Linked DNA regions of Homo sapiens: region 1 is linked to region 2. Evidence: fine-mapped expression QTL. Tissue or cell type: whole blood. Region 2 holds a variant in brackets; the other region holds the start of a gene. All regions are shown on one strand. Distances are between the middles of the regions. Region 1 holds the start of SLC4A1 (solute carrier family 4 member 1 (Diego blood group)). Region 2 has its middle 13 kb from the start of UBTF.

What was found. PIP is the estimated chance that this variant, and not a neighbour inherited with it, causes the effect. A credible set is the group of variants that fine-mapping cannot tell apart.
Region 1: it holds the start of SLC4A1, and the variant in region 2 is the best candidate, but not a certain one, in a credible set for the expression of SLC4A1 in whole blood (INTERVAL, PIP 0.88).

The regions. Positions count from the first base shown.
Region 1 is chr17:44,263,255-44,275,172 of GRCh38, forward strand. SLC4A1 (solute carrier family 4 member 1 (Diego blood group)) reads right to left here and starts at 4,881. Exons shown (of 20, transcript NM_000342.4): 1 at 4,800-4,881. LOC105371790 (a long non-coding RNA gene) reads right to left here. Exons shown (of 4, transcript XR_934778.4): 3 at 11,024-11,141; 4 at 10,781-10,924.
Region 2 is chr17:44,226,704-44,239,289 of GRCh38, forward strand. It overlaps the pseudogene SHC1P2. Among named protein-coding and RNA genes, the nearest start is that of UBTF, 13 kb to the left of the region's middle. RefSeq lists silencers at 8,444-8,644, 8,944-9,144 and an enhancer at 11,048-11,679. The variant G/T (reference allele first, on the strand shown) is at 7,148.

The DNA of each region.
Region 1 (11,918 bases), 36 kb after region 2:
TGCCCATCCCTGGGACTCAGCTAATACCAGGGGACCTGCTGGTCTCTTCTTCAGGGGGGCTTAGCTCCCCTGAGGGGCTCTAAACACATGCTCTTCTCTCAGAAATAGCTGCTGCCCACCGGGCATGGGCTGCAGCATCCTTGGGAGTGGTCCGCAGGTCTGGACGATGTGGTCCTACTTCTCTCCCTGACCCCATCTTGCACTCCGTCTCTCTCGCTCTCTCCCCACCTAGCCTATTGGCCTCCTGTGGTTCCTAGAACTCACTAAGCCCTTTCCTGTCCCAGGGCCTTTGCACATCCAGCTGTCCATATCCCGGACACCCTCCCCCCAATACCTCAGACCTTCTCACATCTCGGCCCAAATGTCTCCTCTTCAGAGGCCCTCCCTGGCCACCACCTTGACCCAATCTGTCATGTTCTGGTTTCTTTTCCCTCCCTCCTTCCCTCCCTTCCCTCCTTCCTTCCTTCCTTCCTTCCTTCCTTCCTCCATCCCTGCTTCCTTCCTTCCTTCCTCTCTCTCTCTCTTCCTTTTTGAGACAGAGTCTCACTCTGTCACCCAGGCTTAGAGTGCAGTGGCATGATCATAGTTCACTGCAGCCTTGAACTCCTGGGCCCCAGGGATCCTCCTGGCCCAGCCTCCTGAGTAACTGGAATTATAGGCATGCCACAGTGCCCAGGTAATTAAAAAAAAAAAAATCTGTGTGTAGAAACAGGGTCTCACTATCTCAGTGTGGGCTGCTGATTTCTTTCTTCTTTTTTATTTTTTTGAGAGCGGGTCTCCCTCTGTTATCCAGGCTAGAATGCAGTGGCATGATTACAGCTCACATCAGTCTCAAACTCCTAGACTTAAGTGAACCTCCCACCTCAGCCTCCAGAGTAGCTAGCACACACCACCATGCCTGACTAATTTTTAAATGGTTTCTTGGTTGGGCGTGGTGGCTCACACCTGTAATCCTAACATTTTGGGAGGCTGAGGCAGGCAGATTGCTTGAGCTCAGGAGTCCGAGACCAACTGGGCAACATAGTGAAACCACATGTCTACAAAAATACAAAAATTAGCTGGGTGTGGTGACGTATACCTGTAGTCCCAGCTACTTGAGAGGCTGAGGTGGGAGGATTGCCTAAGCCTGGGAGGCAGAGGTTGCAGTGAGCCAAGATGGCACCACTGCACTCCAGCCTGGGTGACAGAGTGAGACTCTTTAGAAGGAAAACAAAACAAAACAAAAAAACCAATACGTGGTTTCTTGATTGATTTGTGTTCATATTATCTGACAATGCTTTTGGAAGGGAAACTACCTGAGTGCGAAGACCCTGTATGTCCCATCCCCACGAAATTCACTACTCCTAGCAGAGTGGCTGTCACGTAGTAGGTGCTCAATAAACATTTACTGAATGATTGTAAGAATGGCTCCCTATTGCGGGGTTGGGGCTCTGAGACTGGGGAGCCAGGATGACTAGGCCCCAGCCAAGAGGCCTCTGAGCTCGGGGTCTCAGTTTTCTCAGTTGTGTCCCTAGCAGAGAGGAAGGTGTGCCTTCCCCAGGAATGTGAGGGCAGGTCCAAGGGGAGGACAGGGGTCACCTAAGGTGGCCCCAGACTGGGTGTGGAGGTGCCTCTTTTCCCTCCTCGCCCACTACAGCACAGGGCATTGAGGTGACAGGCAATTGGGTCGGTTCAACAAAGGTTCCCACTCTGTGCCTGGCATTGTGTTGAGCACTGGAGGCTGTGGGGAGGGGGTGCCGAGCACTGGGGGCTGTGGGGAGGGGGTGCTGAGCACTGGGGGCTGTGGGAGGGGGTGCCGAGCACTGGGGGCTGTGGGGAGGGGCTGCTGATCACTGGGGGCTGGTGGGAGGGGGTGCTGAGCACTGGGGGCTGGTGGGAGGGGGTGCTGAGCTGAACAAGGCCCGTCTCTACTCTGGGGAAGCTCCTAGCCGCGACAGGGAGGCAAACTGGGAACACAGGGCAGCCTCAGTGCTTCCGAGGTGACATGGACCCCAGGGGCCGAAAGTGCTGAGTGCCAAGGATCTGTATGGCAGGAAGAAGAGCAGGACGCGTTTGCAGCACTCGGGGGTGGAGTCACCGGAGGAGGGGTCACTGGCGCTAGCCTAAAAACACAGGTGAGTTTTTCTTGTTTTTGAGACACAGTCTTGCTCTCTCTCCCAGTCTGGAGTGCAGTGGCGCGATCTTGGCTCACTGCAAGCTCCGCCTCCTGGGTTCACGCCATTCTCCTGCCTCAGCCTCCCGAGTAGCTGGGACTACAGGCGCCCGCCACCACGCCCAGCTAATTTTTTGTATTTTTTTAGTAGAGACGGGGTTTCACTGTGTTAGCCAGGATGGTCTCAATCTCCTGACCTCGTGATCCACCCACCTCGGCCTCCCAAAGTGCTGGGATTACAGGTGTGAGCCACCGTGCCCAGCCAAGCACTGGTGAGATGTGAAGGGCTGGGAGTCCAGATGTGAGGCATGCCTGGGTGGAGCTGAACAGGTGGGCTGAGCAAGGTGGGAAAATGCCACGTGAGGGCATGGGGCAGGGAGCCTGGCCAACATGGTGAAACCCCATCTCTACTGAAAATACAAAAATTAGCCAGGCGTGGTGGCGCATGCCTGTAATCCCAGCTACTCAGGAAGCTGAGGCAGGAGAATCCCTTGAACCAGGGGGCAGAGGTTGCAGTGAACCGAGATTGCGCCACTGCACTCCAGCCTGGGCAACAGAGCGAGACTCCGTCTCAAAAAAAAAAAAAAAAGAAAGAAAGGGATGTGCAAACAGCCTTCTTTCTGAGGAATGGGTGACCCTGCAGTCCTGGGGGTAGGGAGGGGATTACTGGATCTCACCAGACTGGAGAATGGGAGAGACCCCTGCCTTGGCAGGTGGGGCAAGTGATGGGGTGCGGGGGAGGGGTCCTGGACCTGAGGACGAGGTAGTCCCTACTGCAGGGCTTGGCTTTGCTCCTGAGGACCCTGATGACCCACCTCTTCTCTCTCTTTTTCCTCCTCCCTCTCTGCTTCTCCCAAAGTTCCTCTTTCTCTTCCATCTTTATTCACTTTCTTCCTTCTCTGGACTTGCCCATGCACTTTCTTAGGCCTCAGATGCTAAGGCCTCCAGGGTGTCTAAGCCTTAGGTACTAAAAGTCCCACCCATGGGGCTGGGACTGTGGCCTTGGTTGCCTATCTGAGGAGTGGAATGGTCAGAGGGGCCCTCAGAGCTGCAGAATCCAGAGGTCCAGGCTGCCTCTCTGCCACTGACTGGCTGAAGGGCCTTGGGCAGCTTCCAGCCTGTAGGCCTCAGTCACCCCATCTGTACAATGGGAGTGCCTTCCTGCCAGGGTTCTGAGACATCAGTGAGAGAGAAGAGGGGAAAACAGAGGTGCCTTGAGCTCAGTTGGAGACTTACAGGGCGCACCCATGACCCAGATTGCCACCCGCCAGCCAGGCCGCCCCCCAGCTGCAGGCCTTGTGCTGCCTAGCACTGATAAGGGCCTGGACCCAGATCGCTGCCCCAAGTTTTGGAAGTGCACCAAACACCTGGCCAGCTAGCCAGCTGGCCAGGGCCAGGCCAGATAAGGGTGAGCGGGACATCTGAGCCTAGAAGGTATAGCACAGCTGGGAAGACACGGCGGGAGAGGGGATTGACCAGATGACAGGGACAACTTCCTAGTGGTATGGCACCACCTTTGTGTAATCAGCCCGAACTGCACAAAGAACTGTACTGCCTTAACTCTTAGAATCCCCAAAGCATTCTGTGAAGTGGTTTGGGGATTCTAAGAGGAAGAAGAGTAATGTCATTAATCCATTCTACAGATGCGAAAGCTGAGGTTCAGAGACATTTACCTGCTTCAGCCACCCAGCAGGTAGGTATCAGAGCCAGGTTACAGCCTGGACTACCTGACTCCAGCCACATCCCTAAGCACTATGCTAAGTTGCCTCCAACAAAACAACTGTTAGCTGGTTTAGAGTTAGTTGTTAAGATCACGGACTCTGCAGTCGGACTGCCTGGATTCAAAGCCCAGCCCTGCCATTTACTAACGGCGTGTGACTTCAACTCTCTGTGCCTCAGTTTTCTCATCTGTAAAATGGGGGTGATGATAATGATGCCCATCTCATAGACCTGTTGTAAGCATTAAGGAAATTTACATTTGTAAGGGGCTTAGAACAGTGCCTAGCATATAAGGAGCGCTATGAAAATGTTTGCTGTCATTATCCCTTGCTGCTGGGGTTACAGTCAGACTTGCCATCTTCATTTCCCCTCTGATTTGCCCTCAGTTCCCATGGAATTAGCCTGAGCTAAGTGTTTTGAGATTCTCATGTGGTAGGAGGCTCTGCAGTTCCCTCCAATACTGACCACGCTGGGCGTGGAGCCAGGTGCCCCAGGTAGACCCCTGGAAGTGTCCCAAAGGGGATACTGTGTCAGCTGACATCCTGCCTCCTAGGTGGGAGAGGGGGTGGTCTGAGGACCCCATTAGGAAGGAAGGAGTCTGGGGTGGACAAGACCTGACCCTGTGGGATCCAACAAGCTGACAAGGGCCCATACCTGGAGGGGATCAGATACCCCCCGCAACACACGCACCGGAGCCACACATACCTCTGCTGCCATTGACCACCTGCCACCCTCCTCTTTTCAGGTGCCAATGGGCCTGTTCCCTTAGGGGCAACATATGCATGGTAACATTCTCACCCCACCCACCTGCACCCCCTTGGAGGTCAGGAGCCTGGCCCACCTGGGCATAGATTCAGGCTGGGCACCTGTAGAAGCCCTCAGGGCAGGCACCGAAGGACCATCCCCAGCCCCTCCCTGCCCTGCCCACCTGCTCACGAGCCTCAGGGTCCCTTGGTGAAGTCCTGCAGCCGCTGGTGCCCTCTGCGACCAGCTACGTTCCCACTCGTTCTGACAGCACCAGCGCCCCAGGGGCAGCTCGCAAACCCCTGACTCATGCCCCCGCCTCCTAATCTGCCCGCCCCACTGGCCCTGGGAGCCCCTTCCCACACCCCCCACCCCGCTCCCACTGGGTGCCCAGTAAACAGAGTTATCTCTTACCCACATCTGGACAGCTGTGAGTCTGGCCCACCCCACCCGCCTGGCCAGCCCCCAAGGCCTCTCGGGGCCCTCCTGGTCCCCATGGTTCTCCTGACTCTTCCTTTGTGGATGAAGGTTTGATCGCTCTGTCCTCAGGGCTCCCAGTGCCCTGGCAGGAAGGCACCAGCCTCCAGAGGTCCCTGTCCTGCCTCTGTCCATCCTCCACTCTGGCCAGGCCCTTCTGCTCTGGCCCCAAGGTGCAAGGGCGCCTGCTCCTCTCGTCTCTCTTGGTATCCACGCTAGGACTCACTCCTCCTCTGCAGTTTTCTCCACAGGGAACTGCTCAGCACTCACGGGGCACGGACAGCCCCCTCCCCTCCTTGATCCAGACTAGGATGCCCCAGCCACATTCTCCCCAAGACCCTGGCTGGTTCTAAAGAGCTGGCTCCTGGACACTAAGACACTGACATTCAGTCAACCTGAAACAATGTCAGCTCAACAAAACAACCATCCCCACACCAAGCTCTTCAACTCACAAAGCTCTAATGTCTGGGCATACTGGCTCCTCTGTAGGCAGCCTGGCTCAGGCCCCCAGGCCAGAACAGCCGCATTCTCAGCCCCTGCCATGCCCCTCCCCTTCAGTTCCCACCCCTACACCCCCAGTTTCTCTGCTCTGGGGGGTGACCAGAGCCTGGTCACCTCTTCGTAGGCTCTGGTTGCTAAAGAGGCAGAGACTGAAAGATGAGTACAGATCAGCAAGAATGAAGAGGGGTTTTCAAGCAGACAGAAAGGGGTGTTGTGGCCATCGCTCTGGGCACAGAGAGGAGGGTGTCCTAGTACAGCTCCGGCATGGACTGGCTGAAGGAACCTGGACAAGTCCCTGGCCCTCTCTGGGCTTCTGTTTTCTCATCCGTAAAGTGAGAGTGTTGGGTTATGTGGCCACCAGCCTGAAGTTCAGACTCAAGCAGAAGAAACTCAAACACAGGGACACACAGGTGGACAAATCCCGCCACTGCAAGACCATTCACTATCTGCACCACAAGCCTGCCAGGGGCTGAGTCCTGTGGAGAGAGAAAAGGGGAGGGACACGGGTCCTGAGGCAGAATCCTGTTTATGGAGGACCTCGGTTCCAGGAATTATGCTGAGGCCTTCATCTTGTGGTCACGCTGGATTCCTACAAACCCCCCACTTCACAGAGGAGGAAACAAAGCCACAGAGAGGCTTTCCCAGGAAAAAGAATGCCCAACGGACCAGCACCTGCCCCGTGCAGTGCACCATGCCTGGACTTCACACGCTCTAGCTTGCCAAGCTCTCTAAGCCCATCTGAGGACAACACTGTTTACGATGTTTATTCACCTCTCACAGAGAAAGGGCAGCAAAAGGAGAGCAGTGACTTGCCCAAGTCCTCTGGGCTGGTGAAGCCAGCGTGGGCACTCCGACCTGCTAATCTGCCTGGACAGCTGGTGTTCTGCCAGATCTGAGCCCCTCCCACCACCCAGGCCTTGGTGCCGGTCAGGAACAGAGAGAGGCCCTGGCTAAAGGGGGCTGGAGGTGCCTTCTCCTGCTCCAGCTGGTGGGATCTGTCCCAAACCCTGGGCCCACACTGGGTTGGCTTCCTATGGCCTGTGGCAGTGAGTGCCAAGTGAAGACCTTTGACTCCTTGACCCAGCCAGTGTGCCCAGTCCCCTTGCCCCTCTGCCTGCCCTAGGAGTCAGAGACAGCTGAGTGCAGGGGGCAGCAATGGGGCACCTCTCCTGGGGCCCGGGAAGGACTGACAGCTGGCTGGGGGTGGAACAACAAATGGCATCATCTGGCTTAGGGGGAAAATCTGGCCAGCTGTTTGGCTGTTCTGCAGGCACCACCCCCTGGCAGCCCCACCAGACAGCCAGGCAGAGGCACAGCAGCTTGGACGCTGGTTCTTTCCACTCACACCACATGTTCTAGATCATTCTTGTTGCCCTGGCTGAATGTAGATGTTTCTTTTCTAACTCTGCCCAATGTCACATTTAATCTTTTTTTTTTTTTTTTTTTTTTTTTTTTTGAGGCGGTGTTTCGCTCTTGTTGACCAGGCTAGAGTGCAATGGCGCAATCTCGGCTCACTGCAACCTCCGCCTCCTGGGTTTAAGCGATTCTCCTGCCTCAGCCTCCCAAGTAGCTGGGATTATAGGCGCCCACCACCATGCCGGGCTACTTTTTGTATTTTTAGTAGAGATGGGATTTCACCATGTTGGCCAGGCTGGTCTTGAACTCCTGACCTCAGATGATTCGTCTGCCTCCCAGAATGCTGGGATTACAGGTATAAGCCACTGTGTCAGGCCTCTTTTGTTTTTTGTTTTTTTTTGAAATGGAGTCTCACTCTGTCGCCCAGGCTGGAATGCAGTGGCTCAATTTCAGCTCACTGCAACCTCCACCGCCCGGGTTCAAGTGATTCTCCTGCCTTAGCCTCTTGAGTAGCTGGGATTACAGACGCCCAACACCACACCCAGCTAATTTTTGTATTTTTAGTAGAGTTTCACCATGTTGGCCAGGCTGGTCTCAAACTCCCGACTTCAAGTAATCTGCCCACTTCGGCCTCCCAAAGTGCTGGGATTACAGGTGTGAGCCACCTTGCCTGGCCCACATTTACTCTTGTTTATGCTTTTCCAGGAAGAGGTGAGGGCAACCCTCACTCATTTTATTCCAATTTGGACTTGGGTCAGTTTGATTCATCTGAAGGCCTCCATGCGCCTGGCACTAGGCTGCCCTCTGGGGAAGCAAGGCACGAGGGAGTCTTACCTCCCTTTGACTATGCCCCGGGCTGGACAGAGATGGTCGTGGTCAGAAAGATTGGCACCTGGAGGGCTTGAGCAGAGCCCCAAGATGCCTTGAGCTGTGCCCTGAGTGGCCCTTCACACACTCACAGCCCATCCTGCTCTTTCCTTGGAGTCCCTCTTGTCACTACTGCTCTACCACTTCCTAGAGCACTAAGGGAGGAGCCCTCAGATTCCCCTCCCCAAGGTCCATATGTGTCCTCGTTCAAATTTATACTCCTTTGGGAGAAAGCCGGGAGCCCAGGCAGATGTCAGCAGGAATGAAGTGAGCTGAGGGCGAACCCCGTATGATGTTATTTCAGAGCATACAGCTCAGATCACGGGTTGGGATGGGTTGTCCCAGAGGGAGACTCTGTGGGCAGAGGGTGGAGTTCTTCTGAAAGGACAAGACTTTCTCATTTTCTTTTTCCTTTTTCTTTCTTTCTTTCTTTCTTTCTTTCTTTCTTTCTTTTTTTTTTTTTTTTGATACAGAATCGCACTCTGTCACCCAGGCTGAAGTGCAGTGGCGTGATCTCGGCTCACTGCAACCTCCACCTCCCCGGCTCAAGTAATCCTCCTACCTCAGCCTCCTGAGTAGCGGGGACTACAGGCGCACACCACTACACCCAGCGAGTTTCGTATTTTTTGTAGACAGGGTCTTGTTATGTTGCCCAGGCTGGTCTCAAACTCCTGGCCTCAAGTGATCTTCCCACCTCGGCCTCCCAAAGTGCTGGGATATCAGGTGTGAGCCACTGCACCTGGCCTTACTTTCTCATTTTCAATCATCCTGGATGCAGTCAGCCCTCAAGTGAGAAGTGAGGACTGGGTAGTGGCCTTAGAAGGGCCAGCTGCTTTCTCTATCTTACTCTAAGGAGTAGAAGCTGAGACTAGGTAGGACGGGGGTTCGATGATGGTTAAGGGAACTGTCTCTTGCAATGGGATTGGCAATGAGGTGTCAGCTTGGCCTGTGACTGCTGAGGGCAGACCCATTCCATGTGAGCAGACCCTTACATCTTTTCTTCCATGCTCAGCCGGTAATTCTCAGCTGCTATCCTGAAGTCCTCAGCAAAGCTTGCTGGACTGGATCACCTGCCTCTGTTACCCCATGCGGATGGAGGGGAGGGTCTGAGACCATGTTTGGGGCAGAGCAGGCCATGGTTTGCGGTGGCAGCTAAGGTGAGTGGACATCCAGATGGCACGGGGGAGCACCTGAAGGGAGGTGTGGTGGCTGGAGCCAGGAGGCTGGAGGAGGGGACGTGGTCTGGCCAAGGTGGCCTGGAGGGACCTATGTACATTGCTCGGTGAAGATACGGCTTTCTGTGCCCTCATAGACTAGGGACTCAGACCCCTGGGATTTTGCATTAAAGGGAAGTGTCCCACGGCTGGGACATGTGGGCTGTAGAGGACCTCCTCGGGTTGGAAGCCCTGTGTGATCTTGAGCTGACCACACCCTCTCTCTGGACTTCCTTTTCCTCTCTGGACTGTTGTGACCACATGGGATGACAGGTGGGAAAGAGCTTGAAAATAGTCTTCTCTAGATGCAGGCAAGGGGCTGAGTAGTGAACGGGAGAAGGAGCCACGGGGCTCGTGTATCAGGCAGCCTGAGCCAAGGCAGCAGGGCAGGGACCACGCAGCGATAGGAGTTCATGTCCAGCAGGGAGTGTATACAAACCTCAGAGGGAGGATAAGGGATGTAAACAAGGGATGGGCCCGGAGGGACAAGTAATGCGGGAAGTGTGAGGTCCCCAGGGAGACCATGCTGGTGGAGGGCCCAGAGTTGTGAGGTGCAGCCCTGAGCAGTCTGGGGGTGGATGGAAGTGGGGCAGGGTGCACACACGTTAGGAATGGACCAGTCATCATTATCACCTGGTGAGGGAGTGGGGAGGTGCGGGGAATCAGGCGGGAGAGCTGGGGGATGGGGCTGGAACTGGAAAGGCTCTCAGAGCTGAGCCAGTCCAGTCCCCCTACCCTCAGAACCCTGTGCCCCGTGACCCTCATCACCAGCACCCTCGGCTGGGCCCTGGGGAGTCCTGGGAGGAAGGCGGTTTCTACTGTCTAGGGGCAGCCAGGCCAGATCTGTGCAAAAATAACTCACCCTGAGCATCCTTCCAGAGATACACGCTGGGAGTTCTGCAGGGTCCCCTGAGAGCTGAGGAGGAGGAAGAGGGGAAGTGGGAGTTCCAGCAGGACTTTGAAGGATGGGGGCGGTTTCTCCAAATGGGAGGAGGAGGGAGGTCAAAGGGCAGGTTTGGGCCAGTGTGATGGCTCAGGCCTGTAATCGGCACTTTGGGAGGCCAAGGTGGGAGAATTCCTTGAAGCCAGGAGTTCTCAAGACCAGCCTGAGCAACATAGCAAGACACCATCTCTACAAAAAGTAAAAAAAAAAAAAGTTACCTTTTTAGCCAAGTGTGGTGACACAGGCCTGTAGCCCTAGCTACCTGGGAGGCTGAGATGGGAAGATCGCTTGAGTCCAGGAGTTCAAGACTGCAGTGAGCTATGATGGCACCACTGCACTCCTGCCTGAGTGAGTGAGACCCTGTCTCTAATAAAGAAAATAAATAACTATTTTGGTGGCTCACACCTGTAATCTCAGCACTTTGGGAGGCTGAGGCAAGCAGATCACTTGAGGTCAGGAGATCGAGAGCAGCCTGGCCAACAAGGTGAAACCCTGTTTCTACTAAAAACACAAACATTTGCTGAGTGTGGTGGCGCATGCCTGTAATCCCAACTCCTCAGAGGGCTGAGGCATGACAATCACTTGAGCCCAGGAGGCGGAGCCCAGGTTGCAGTGAGCTGAGATCCTACCACGCACTCCAGCCTGTAAAACAGAGGAAGACCCTATCTCAAAAAATAATAATAAATAAATTCAATAATTTAAAAAACAAAAACAAGGGCAGGTTTGGAGAGCTGTGGGGTCAGCTTGGCTCTGCAGAGAGTTCAGTGTGCGGGGGTGTCCTGGGAGGAGGATCTGCTTGAGGGGCTCAAGGCAGGCTGTGAGCTCTCTGAGTCTTGACACTCACCTTTCTCTGAATGTTCTCTGTTCTCTTGGCTTCTGGATCTTTCCATGCACTGTTCCCTTGTCCTGAGATGCCTTTCCTTTCCAAACTTGCTGGACCAAAGCTTTGACCTTCAAGGTTCATTGTTTGCATTCCCAGCTCTGTGAATTCCTTCTCTCCCGCCAACCTTCCAACCCCTGGAGATTGACAGGTCCCAGCCCAGCACCTACCTGTGTCATTGCCTCTCTGCTCCCTACTGAGATGGTCCATGGTCCTGTGTGTCTCCTCCACAGATCATGTTCCCAAGGACAAGGACCCTCACTCAGGTCCTTAAACCTGACCAGGGCTCTGCCGGTAGTTGATAGTTTATATGAGTTTGTTGACTTGAATGAAATCAATACAAAAATCCGTCCCTTTGCCGGGTGCAGTGGCACATGCCTGTAATTCCAGCACTTTGGGAGGCTGAGGCAGGAGGATCACTTGAGACCGAGAGTTTGAGACCAACCTGGGCAACACAGTGAAACCCTGTCTCTATTAAAAAAAATTCTGTCCCTTACCCCACTGCCAAAAGTATAGGTGAAAAAACTAATATTTGGGCTGGATGCAGTGGCTCATGCCTATAATCCCCGCACTTTGGGAGGTCAAGGCGGGCAGATCACTTGAGGTCAGGAGTTCGAGACCAGCATAGTCAACATGGTGAAACCCTATCTCCACTAAAAATACAAAAATTAGCCAGGCATGGTGGCACACATCTGTAATCCCAGCTACTCGAGAAGCTGAGGCACGAGAATTGCTTGAACCTGAGCGGTGGAGGTTGCAGTGAACCAAGATAGTGCCACTGCCCTCCAGCCTGGGTGACAGGGCAAGACCATGCCTCAAAAAGAAAAGAAAACTAATATTTGAGAAAGGTCAAACAAGTGATACATTAACAGTCTTATTTTATTCGAATCCTTTCCCTAAACACAAGCAAGCAAAGAAACAAACCCTGAGCCTCCTCCAGTCCTCTCCATCCACTTGGTTCCTCAAATCCCCAAACCCAGTTGCTTCCTTGACTCTTAATTTTCCCTCACTCCCAATCCCCACTTCCAATAACAGCTCATTCTACTGGATCTAGCTTCATGCTTC
Region 2 (12,586 bases):
AGGCGGAGCTTGCAGTGAGCGGAGATCCCACCACTGTACTCTAGCCTGGGTGACAGAGCAAGACTCTTCTCAAAAAAAAAAAAAAAAAAGAAAACAATAGAGTGTGGTGATTTGGGGTACATGGTGTGAGGGGATGGCAGGATATGAAGGAAAGGGCAATTGAGTAGAGCTCTTAGAGGTAAAACTCACAAAAATATAGGGCCCCATCTGACCTAGTCCACCTGCAATTTTTATTTTTTATTTATTTATTTTTTATGTTTAGAAGAAATACGGACTTTAATGAAGAGTTTTCCTTTTGCTACAAGTGAGACCCGGGGAAACATCCCAACAACGACAAAAGGAGGCCAGGATGGAAACAGCCCACTCTCTCTTATCCACAAGGCCTAAAGAGAAAGCCCGGCTTGCTGTCGTGTGTCCACTCCGGGCCTAGGCAGGGCTGCGCCTGTAAAAGGTACTCAGGAACTGCAGGTTTTGCATTTCCCCTTTGTGAAACTAACATGCATTTGGGCAAACTTCTGCCTCCCAGTCTCGTGGTAAGAGGCCCAAGTTTTTCTAGTCCTAGGTGGAAATCAGTTTCATCTGCCTCAGGTCTCTGGTATAAATAATAATGCTGCTGATCCCAGTTACCTCACAGGCCTGGGCAACGAAAATGCCAAGAGCTGCAAAAGGTCTTGGAAAATTCAAAAAGGTGATGTATAAATTTAATAATTGATTATCATTTTGTGCTCAAGAATAAGCCATGGAAAACAAAATTAGGAAAGTAAGTCTATATCCCTAAAATATATGCATATAAAATTTTAAAAGAATGCAGTTCCAACTCTGCAGATAGTATTCAGGGATGGTCTACTGCTTTAGAGTCTCAATGCCCCTTTTCCCACCTCCACAAAATCCACCTGGGAGAGTTTACTGTACACGAAGCCCAAATTCAGTCACCCCCCACCCCTCCTCTCCCAGAAAGGGAGGCAGGGCAGAGGCTCCAGGAGGAAGGGCTACATTTTGGCTATAGAGTACAATAGGCATGCATCATGGGAGGGCAGGGTTTATGAAATGGATTGAGGGGCTCTGGCCAGGAGGCACTGAGCAAGGGACAGGTCCATCTTCCCCCTGGCTGGGAGGGGGGCTCTGGGACAATCTCTAAGGGTTGCATATCCCCAGGGAGAGGGGATATATGCCATTCTTGTCTCTATTCTCCCAACCCAAACCAGAGAGGGTGCTGAGCAAGGAGAAAACAGGGTCTCAGAAGCCAAGAAGGTGTCGGCATCACTGTCATTGAATTCAGGGACCCATGAACTCTTTTTTTTTTTTTTTTTGAGATGGAATCTCACTCTGTCGTCCAGGCGGGAGTGTAGTGGTACAATCTTGGCTCACTGCAACCTCCACCTCCCGGGTTCAAGCGATTCTCCTGCCTCAGCCTCCTTAGTAACTAGGATTATAGGTGCATGCCACTACACCCAGCTAATTTTGTACTTTTAGTAGAGACGGGTTTTCGCCATGTTGGCCAGACTGGTCTTGAACTCCTGACCTCAAGTGATCCATCCGCCTCGGCCTCCCAAAGTGCTGGGATTACAGGTGTGAGCCACCACATCTGGCACGAACTCTTTGCATAAAATATCTTCAGACCTAGGAGGTGGTCAAAGGCACAAAGTTTAAACATGGGGTGGGGGTTGTGGAGAGGTGTCTGGGGTACCCTGAAGCTCAGAGGTGTGATTTGTTCCCCCTTGCCCAGAAGGGTGACTGCTCCACTGGGCCTATCACCACAGGACATTTTCCATGACAAGCACTCACCTTCTTGGGGAAGGGACATCGGGTTGGCACAGGAAAGGCGTAGGTAAGGGGCCACTCTGTCCATTAATACTTCGGGTGATTAATGTTTGGGGAGAAGCAAGATTCTCCCCCAGGCTTCTGACTCAAACTCTCTCACTTAGCTGGATACTAAACCCAGTGTCCACACTACCCTCAGCTCTGACACAAGGCCAAACCCACAGAACACTCCCAAATGAGGTCCCGAGAGTTAGGGAATAGGGTGGAATCTTCTGGAAGAGGGCGCTGGGGCAGATCACAGTTTCCACTTCACAGGTTGCTGTAGATACAGTTCACTGCCCACAGAGATGATAGGCCAGTGATTGTCCATGTGGTAGCTGATGAGGTGACTGACACTCTCTTTTTTTTTTTGAGACGGAGTCTCGCTCTGTTGCCCAGGCTGGAGTACAGTGGCGTGATCTCGGCTCACTGCAAGCTCCGCCTCCTGGGTTCACACTATTCTCCTGCCTCAGCCTCCTGAGTAGGGACTACGGGCGCCTGCCACCACGCCCAGCTAATTTTTTGTATTTTTAGTAGAGACCGGGTTTCACCGTATTAGCCAGGATGGTCTCGATCTCCTGACCTTGTGATCTGCCTGGCTTGGTCTCCCAAAGTGCTGGGATTGACACTCTCAAAGCAGTGATCCTTTGTCCAAACCAGTCCTTCAGGGTCCACCAATAGCAGGTGCTTAGGCAGCCCACTCTGCAAGCCAGTAAGCACATACTGGCCTTGGTCATGCTCTCCCGCACCAGGAAGTCGCCATGGAGCTGCAGCAATGCCTCAGCCTCTCGCTGGCTCAGCTTCCCGTGGAACCAGGGCTCCCCTTGGAGCTGCTCAGCCATGGAAACCACTGGGGAGGGGGAGGCACCCAAAGAGCATCTTTAAAGGGCTTCATGTCAAAGAGGTCCCAGGGTGCACTGCGATTGATGGCAGGATGGGGGGGCCTAGCACCACCTTCTGCTTGCCGGGCCTTGTCTAGGTTCTGGACGTTGATATAGGGATCATTGAAGAGCTCTCTGCCTGCTGGACAGGGTGGTGGAGGTGGCATCTGTTTGCGGACTTCTGGATCTCCCCCAGCAGGCTATCCCACAGGCAGTGTAGCTCCCAAGTGGCTGGGGGTCCAGACACTGGGTGGAGTGGGTCAAGCAGCCTCTGAAGTGGCTCCTTCCCGAAGCCTCATGTCTACCAACTCCCCAAGAGAAGGTTCCTTCCCAGGGACGTCATTATAGTACTAATGGTCAGGTGGCTCTTCCTCCTCCTCATCCCAAGCTGATCCATCAAAGCCAGCCATCCTGTCTTGGGGGTGAGCAGTTGGGGTGGGTTCGTGAGGTATTGTTTGAAGCACAACTCGAAGGCCTGGCCAATGGTGCTAATGACATCCTGGGAGGGCCTTTGGGACACTCCAGAATGTGGCAGGCTCTCTGATTCACAGGGTCTTTGGCAACGTAGGCAACATCCTCAGCTGTGTCCTGTTTGCAGTCTGCGGCCATGAGGTTGAGGCTGCTGGTGGAGACGGTGAGAGTGATTGGCATTCCAGCAAATTTCAGGTTACTCCTTCCCAGGATAGAGCTGAGCAGGCAGCTACAGGGCTTTCTCTTCCTTGTCACCCCCTTCACACCCAGCACAGCATCACACACCAGACTGATGGCCTGCCTCCCTGCGTGACCTGAGTTGGGTGTTGAAGTCGAGGGCACGCATTGATTGCAGGACCTCCATATAGCCCATGGAAGTGAGCCTGGGCCATTAGCATCCTCTGCTACAACAGCTGTGGATTGGAGCTAGCAAAGTGAGGACAGGAAGGAAGTGGTCCCAGCGGACATAGAGCAGGGCCAAGAGGAAGAGCAAAGCAGGGCCTCATGGAGTCTCCGCACCGCACCACAGGCCGATTTGATTCCAGATCACACCACTGCCTGCTTAGGTCACCACTCCAACTTTCTCCCCTGGCTCTGCCTCCCTAGAGAAACTTTATTACGCTCACTTCCCGCCTCACTAACCCCTGACCCTCTCCCCCTGCAGTTTTTAACTTTCTGAGTTGCTCACATTGAGCCTACAGCAATTTGTCAATTACACTTCAGGTTTTTCTACCCTGGCACTGGTTCCTGTGGAGGTTACTGCTTGTGAGTTTCTGCTCCCATCAACTGTGATTCTCAGGCTGGGCGTGGTGGCTTATGCCTGTAATCCCAGCACTTTGGGAGGCTGAGGCAGGAGTATTGCTTGAGCCCAGTAGTTCAAGACCAGCCTGGACAACATAGGGAGACCCCATCTCTACCAAAAATTGAAAAATTAGCTGGGTGTGGTGGCTCGTGCTTGTAGTCCCAACTATTAGAGAGGCTGAGATGGAAGAATCGCTTGAGCCCAGGTATTTGAGGCTGCAGTGAGCTATCATTTTGCCACTGTACGCCAGACAGAGCAAGAGCCTGTCGAAGAAAAAAAGAAATTGTGATTTTATCTGACTGTCTCACCAATTTAGGGCATAGCAATTTGCTGTGTGACCCCACTTCTCTGATGGATCTAAGAAGGGTTGATTTTTCAGTTTGTTCAGCTTTTTACTTGTTTGAATGTAGAGGTGATTTCCAAGCTCTTTACATGTTAGACTGGAAACTCTTCTTCCTGTTTTTTTTTTTTTTTTTTTTAAGAGATGAAGTCTTGCTATGTTGCCCAGGCTGATCTTGAACCCCTGGGCTTATAATCCCAACTCCAAAGTGTTGGGATTATAGGCGTGAGCCACCTTGCCCAGTTGAAATCCTCTATTTCGTTTTGAGTGAATTTGGCTGTTTGTGTCTTTCACTCTGTTTAAAAAACTATATATGGGTTGGGTGTGGTAGCGCATGCCTATAATCCCAGCACTTTGGAAGGCCAAAGCAACGGGATTGCTTGAGCCCAGGAGTTTGAGACCAGTCTGGGCAACATAGCAAGACCCTCTCTCTACAAAAAAATACAAAAATTAGCCGGGTATAGTGCCCTCATGCCTGTGATCCCAGCTACTCAGGAGGCTGAGGCAGGAGGATCACTGGAACCCAGGAGGTTGAGGCTGCAGTGAGCCATGATTGCTCCACTGCACTCCAGCGTGGATGACAGAGTGAGACCCTGTCTCAAAAGAAAAGAAAAAAGAAAAAAAATTCCCACACAGCACAGATGATAGGATTTTTTTTATCCTGACGTATAGGAACTTTATTTTACTTTTAAATTTATTTAATTAATTATTATTATTATTTTTTGAGGTGGAGTTTTGCTCTTGTTGCCCAGGCTGGAGTGTAGTAGCGCGATCTCAGCTCATTGCAACCTCTGCCTCCCAGGCTCAAGCAATTCTCCTGCCTCAGCCTCCCAAGTAGCTGGGCGCACCACCACGGCCAGCTAATTTTTGTAGTTTTAGTAGAAACAGGGTCTCACCATGTTGGCCAGGCTGGTCTCAAACTCCTGGCCTCAAGCGATCCGCCTGCCTCAGCCTCCCAAAGTGCTGGGATTACAGGAGTGAGCCACCGCGCCCTGCCAATAGGAATTTTACCATTTCGTTTAAGTTGTCAAATGTATGGGTATTTATGTTTGTAGTATTCCTTTGTTATTCTTTTAATGTTTTTAGGGTCTGTAGTGATGTCTTCCATTTCTGTTATTTATAATTTGTGTCTCTTCTCTGTTTTTCTTGGTCAGTCTGACCAAAGGTTTATAAATTTTACTCATTTTTTTTCAGAGAACTAGCTTTTCGTTTCATTGATTTCCTCTACTGTTTGTTCTTAATTTCATTGATTTTTTTTTTTTTTTTTGAGTGACTCACTCAGTTACCCAGGCTGGAGTGCAGTGGTGCTATCTCGGCTCACTGCAAACTCTGTCTCTCAGGTTCAAGCGGCTGTGCCATCTCAGCCTCCCGAGTAGCCAGGACGATAGGTGTGCACCACCATGCCCGGCTAATTTTTGTATTTTTATTAGAGATGGGGTTTCACCATGTTGGCCGGGCTGGTCTCGAACTCCTGACCTCAAGTGACCCACCTGTCTTGGCCTCCCAAAGTGCTGGGATTACAGACCTGAGCCACCAAGCCTGGCCAATTTCATTGATTTCTATTCTATCTTTATTATTTCCTTCCTTTTGTCTGCTTTGGGTTTAATTTGCTCATTTTTTCTAGTTTCTTATAGCAGGAGTTTAGGTTATTGATTTGAGATATTTCTTATTTTCTTTTTCTTTCTTTCTTTCTTTCTTTCTTTTTTTTTTTTTTTTTTTGAGATGGAGTCTCACTCTGTTGACCTCAAATGATCCGCCTGCCTTAGCCTCCCAAAGTGCTGAGATTACAGGCGTGAGCCTGCTCGCCTGGCCTCTTATTTTTTAATCTAGGTATTTAATGCTCTGTTTCCCCCTAAGCACTACTTCATTGCATCTCACAAATTTTGATATGTTTTCATCCTCCTTTAGTTCAAAATATTTCTCAATTTCACTTATGACTTTAGCTTTGGTCTATGGGTTATTTAGAAGTGCATTGTTTTACTTTCCAAATACTTAGGGATTTGTGGCCTGGCGCTGTGGCTCATGCCTGTAATCCCAACACTTTGGGAGGCCAAGGCGAGCAGATCATTTGAGGTCAGGAGTTTGAGAGCAGCCTGGCCAACATGGTAAAACCCCGTTGTCTCTATTAAAAATACAAAAATTAGCTGGTCATAGTGGCACACACCTGTAATCCCAGCTACTTGGGAGGCTGAGGCAGGAGAATTGCTTGAACCCGGGAGGCGGAGGTTGCAGTGAGCCGAGATCGCGCCACTGTACTCCAGCCTGGGCGACAGAGAGAGACTCTATCTCAAAACAAACAGAAACAAATATTTAGGGATTTGCTAGATGTCTTTCTGTTATTGATTTATAATTTAATAATGTTATGAACATAGGCTATGTTTTCTGTGATTTCCATTCCTTTAAATTTGTTAAGGTTTGTGTTTGTGGCCCAGAATGTTGTCTATTTTAAGGTGAATGATCCATGGGCATTTGAAAAGAATATGTATTCTGCTGTAGTTGGGTGGAGTGTACCCTAAAGATAAATTAGGTCAAGTTGGTTGCTGGTGCTATTTAGGTGTTCTATATCCTTCATGATTTTCTGTCCACTAGTTCTATCAATTATTGAGAGAGTAGTGGTAGTTCCTGCCATAATGGTAGATTTATCTGTTTCTCCTTTCAGTTCCATTAGTTTTAACTTCATGTATTTTGAAGTTTTGTTTAAAAAATTATATAAGGGCCAGATGGAATGACTCATGCCTATAATCCCAGCACTCTGGGAGGTCGAGGTGGGAGGATCGCTTGGGCCCAGGAGTTTGAGACCAGCCTACGCAACATAGGAAGACCTTGTCTCTACAAAATTTTATTTTTTAATTG[G/T]CTGGGTGTGGTGGTGGGTGCCTGTCGTCCTAGCTACTCCAGAGGCTGAGGTAGGAGGATTACTGGAGCCTGGGGGGTTGAGGCTGCAGTGAGCCATGATTGAGCCACTGTACTCCAGCCTAGGCGACAGAGCGGGACGCTGTCTAAAATTTAAAAAAAATAAAATGCACACACATATATAGACATGCTCTATTTTAAAATATATGTAAGGTAGGCTTGGCGCAGTGGCTCACGCCTGTAATCCCAGCACTTTGGGAGCCTGAGATGGGTGAAATCACTTGAGTCCAAGAGTTCGAGACCAGCCTGGGCAACATGATGAAACCCTACCTCTACCAAAAATACAAAAAATTAGCTGGATGTACTGAAACATGCCTGTAGTCCCAGCTACTAGGGAGGCTGAGGTGGGAAAATCACTTGAGCCCAGGAGGTGGAGGTTGCAGTGAGCCAAGATCGTGCCACTGCACTCCAGCCTGGGAGACAGAGCGAGACCCTGTCTCAAAAAAAAAAAAAAAAAAGGAAAAATATATATGTAAATTAGTGTTCACATATAATAAATCTGGAGGAATATACTCTAAATTATTAACAGTCATTACTGGAGGTTTTTTTGTTTTTTGTTTTGTGTTTTTAGAAACAGCCTCCCACTCTGTCTTACTCTGCTGGAGAGCAGTGGTACCATCATAGCTCACTGCAGCCTCAAAGTCCTGGGCTCAAGTGATCCTCCCACCTTAGCCTCTCGAGTAGCTGGGACTACAGGTGAACACCACCACACCTGGCTAATTTTTAAATTTTTAGTAGACACAAAGTCTCACCATGTTGCCCAGGCTGGTCTTGAACTCCTGACCTCAAGTGATCCTCCTGCCTCGGCCTCCCAAACTGCTGGGATTACAGGCATGCGCCACCACACTTGGCCAAATTACTGGAGATTTTTATTCTGTATGTTAAATCATTCTGTAATTTAAGTGTTTTATACATGTATTATTTTTGAAATCTGAAAATACAAAGATATGTTTTAATGGAAGTAGAGAGATGATTTGATGTGTGTGAGTGTGCATGTGTCCCCCAGCCTGAAAAGCATTTTCTGGTCCATCTTGGGAAAAAGTCAGCTGAGCACTCCTGCTGGGCCCTCAGGCCATAACCCACACCTCCTGCTTCTGCTTCCTCACCCAGCCCTTCCTTCCTTACCTCCTGTCAGCTGGCTCTGGGCCCAGGTACATGGGAAAGAAAACCTTCTGAGGTCACCATGTGGTCTGCCAACCCAGCAGGCTTTCCATGATGTCACTTCACTTTGCTGAGCAAATTTCACCCATTTCTCTTCAGGCTACTTCTCAGATATATTCCATTTCATAGACTCTATTCCTTCAAGATATTCCACCTCTCTCATCACTGGGACAGTTACTGCTTGTCCCTCAGGAGTCAGATCAAATGTCTCTCCCTCCAAGAAGCCCTGCCTTACTCCAGCTCCCTCTGCTCCTGCCACTCCCTGCACAATACTAGTGTTTTCTTTTGTTTTGTTTTTGAGACAAGGTCTCACTCTGTCACCCAGGCTGGAGTGCAGTGGCGCGATCACGGCTCACTGAAGCCTTGACCTCCTGGGCTCAAGTGATCCTCCCACTGCAGCCTCTGGAATACTGAGACTATAGGCGCTTGCCACCACGCCTGGCCACAATTTTTTTTTTTTTTTGAGACAGGGTTTTGCCACATTGCCCAGGCTGGTCTCAAACTCCTGGGCTCAAGGCATCTGCCCACCTCAGCCCCTCCCAAGGTGCTGGGATTACAGGCGTGAGCACCATGGCCAGCCAGTGCTCACTCTTGCTGAACGTCGGGCCCCATGCTGACTGCAGGTCCTATGATAGCATGGGCTATGTCAGCCCGCCTCTGCTACTGACTCACTGACATGCACAGATTCCCAGTTTGCCTCCTTACAGCGAATTCCTCCTGTATGAATTCACTTCCAGGTGAATCACTTTAATCATGTCACTTCCCAGCCCAAGAACCTGCAAGACTCCCTAATGCCTCCTGAATCAAGTCCAAACCCTTCTGGGCAGTTAGGGTTCTTCAAACTTGACCTTGCTTTTTCCATCTTATATGAACCTCTTCTAGAAGGACTCACCTCTGCAGTCAAGACTTCCCTGTGCTGTCGATACACCATTCCCACCTCCCTGCCCTTGGCCAAACCACTCCCCTACCTACCTGGAAGGTACCCCACCCTCCATTCTCCCTGACCCTTGAGAACAAATTGAATTCCTTTCTTTTTGAGACGGAGTTTTGCTCTTGTCGCCCAGGCTGGAGCGCACTGGCACCATCTCATCTCGGCTCACTGCAACCTCCACCTCCCGGGTTCAAGCAATTGTCCTGCCTCAGCCTCCCAAGTAGCTGGGATTACAGGTGCACGCCCCCACACCCGGCTATTTTTTGTATATTTAGTAGAGACAGGGTTTCACCATGTTGGCCAGACTGGTCTCAAACTCCTGACCTCAGGTGATCCGCCCACCTCAGCCTCCCAAAGTGCTGGGATTACAGATGTGAGCCACCGTGCATGCCCCCAACTTGAATTCTATCCAGTGTCCAAAGTCTAGTTCCTCTTCTCCACAAGCATTCTGTCTCTGGACTTCATAAGCTTGATGGCATAGAGGTGTAGAAGGACACCAGGCTCTTGGTCAAACAGCCGTGCATCTGAATCCTACCCTGCCTCTTAGAAGCCGTATGAGCTAGGGTGAGTTCCTTATCTTCTCTGTGCTTCAGTTTCCTTATCAGTAAGATGGGGCTAAAGCCGACCTCACAGGGTTATTGTGAGGAGGAAAAGAGTAAGAACACGGAAAGCACCTGGAACTGTGCCTAGCACATAGTATGTGCTCAATAAATACTGAAAGCTACTTCTTCAGCCCATTCTGCTCTCTGCCCTCTCAATTTCCACAGCTCATGTCCCTGCAGCCTGCCAGCCCTGGGTCACATCCTGTCACACAGCCCTAGAACTGTTCCATATGGTCAGCAAAACTGAGAACCCAGACCCCTCATATACAAAGAGACAGAAACAAACCTCTCAAATATGACACACCTTGTTAGCAGTGATCAGAGGAGAAAAGGGTTTATTACCCAGTCCCGGAGTGACACCATCCCCCACCCAACAACTCTCAACAACTTGATAGGGCCCAAAGAGGGAAGGGGCCTAGAAGACTGAGAGCAAAAGAGAAAGGTGAGGCTGGCCAGGCACAGTGGCTCATGCCTGTAATCCCAGCACTTTGGGAGGTCCAGGCGGGCAGATCACCTGAGGTCAGGAGTTTGCCAGCCTGGCCAACATGGTGAAACTGTATCTCTACTAAAAATACGAGAATTAAACTGGCATGGTGGCGGGCGCCTGTATTCCCAGCTACTTGGGAGGCTGAGGTAGGAGAATCGCTTGAACCCGGAAGGTGGAGGTTGCGGTGAGCCGAGACCCTGCCACCATGCTGTTGCACTCCAGCCTGGGTGACAAGAGCCAAACTCCATCTCAAAAAAAAAAACAAAAAAAACGAGAAAGGTGAGACCTTTAAGAGATGATAGGAGCCCCTCTCCCTCTCCCTCTCCCTCTCCCTCCTCTCCCTCTCCCTCTCTTTCCACGGTCTCCCTCTCATGCCGAGCCGAAGCTGGACTGTGCTGCTGCCATCTCGGCTCACTGCAACCTCCCTGCCTGATTCTCCTGCCTCAGCCTGCCGAGTGCCTGCGATCGCAGGCGCGCGCCGCCACGCCTGACGGGTTTTCGTATTTTTTTGGTGGAGACGGGGTTTCGCTGTGTTGGCCGGGCTGGTCTCCAGCTCCTAACCGCGAGTGATCCGCCAGCCTCGGCCTCCCGAGGTGCCGGGATTGCAGACGGAGTCTCGTTAACTCAGTGCTCAACGGTGCCCAGGCTGGAGTGCAGTGGCGTGATCTCGGCTACAACCTCCACCTCCCAGCCGCCTGCCTTGGCCCCCCAAAGTGCCGAGATTGCAGCCTCTGCCCGGCCGCTACCCCGTCTGGGAAGTGAGGAGCGTCTCTGCCTGGCCGCGCATAGTCTGGGATGTGAGGAGCCCCTCTGCCTGGCTGCCCAGTCTGGAAAGTGAGGAGAGTCTCTTCCCGGCCACCATCCCATCTAGGAAGTGAGGAGCGTCTCTGCCCGGCCGCCCATCCTCTGAGATGTGGGGAGCGCCTCTGCCCCGCCGCCCCGTCTGGGATGTGAGGAGCACCTCGGCCCGGCCGCGACCCCGTCTGGGAGGTGAGGAGCGTCTCTGCCCGGCCACCCCGTCTGAGAAGTGAGGAGACCCTCCACCTGGCAACTGCCCCATCTGAGAAGTGAGGAGCTCCTCCGCCCGGCTGCCACCCCGTCTGGGAAGTGAGGAGCGTCTCCGCCCGGCAGCCACCCCGTCCGGAAGGGAGGTGGGGGTCAGCCCCCGCCAGGCCAGCCGCCCCGTCCGGGAGGGAGGTGGGGGGTCAGCCCCCCACCCGGCCAGCCACCCCGTCCGGGAGGTGAGGGCGCCTCTGCCCGGCCGCCCCTACTGGGAAGTGAGGAGCCCCTCTGCTCGGCCAGCCGCCCCATCCGGGAGGGAGGTGGGGGAGTCAGCCCCCCGCCCGGCCAGCCGCCCCGTCCGGGAGGGAGGTGGGGGGGTCAGCCCCCCGCCCGGCCAGCCGCCCCGTCCGGGAGGGAGGTGGGGGGGTCAGCCCCCCGCCCAGCCAGCCGCCCCGTCCGGGAGGTGAGGGGCGCCTCTGCCCGGCCGCCCCTACTGGGAAGCGAGGAGCCCCTCTGCCCGGCCAGCCGCCCCGTCCGGGAGGGAGGTGAGGGGATCAGCCCCCCGCCCAGCCAGCCGCCCTGTCTGGGAGGTGAGGGGCGCCTCTGCCCGGCCGCCCCTACTGGGAAGTGAGGAGCCCCTCTGCCCGGCCAGCCGCCACGTCCGGGAGGGAGGTGGGGGGGGGTCAGCCCCCCCGCCTGGCCAGCCGCCCCGTCCGGGAGGGAGGTGGGGGGGTCAGCCCCCCGCCCGGCCAGCCACCCCGTCCGGGAGGGAGGTGGGGGGGTCAGCCCCCCGCCCGGCCAGCCGCCCCGTCTGGGAGGGAGGTGGGGGGGTCAGCCCCCCGCCAGGCGAGACGCCTCGTCCGGGAGGGAGGTGGGGGGTCAGCCCCCTGCCCGGCCAGCCGCCCCGTCCGGGAGGTGAGGGGCGCCTCTGCCCGGCCGCCCCTACTGGGAAGTGAGGAGCCCCTCTGCCCGGCCACCACCCCGTCTGGGAGGTGTACCCAACAGCTCATTGAGAACGGGCCATGATGACAATGGCGGTTTTGTGGAATAGAAAAGGGGGAAAGGTGGGGAAAAGATTGAGAAATCGGATAGTTGCTGTGTCTGTGTAGAAAGAAGTAGACATGGGAGACTTTTCATTTTGTTCTGTACTAAGAAAAATTCTTCTGCCTTGGGATCCTGTTGATCTATGACCTTACCCC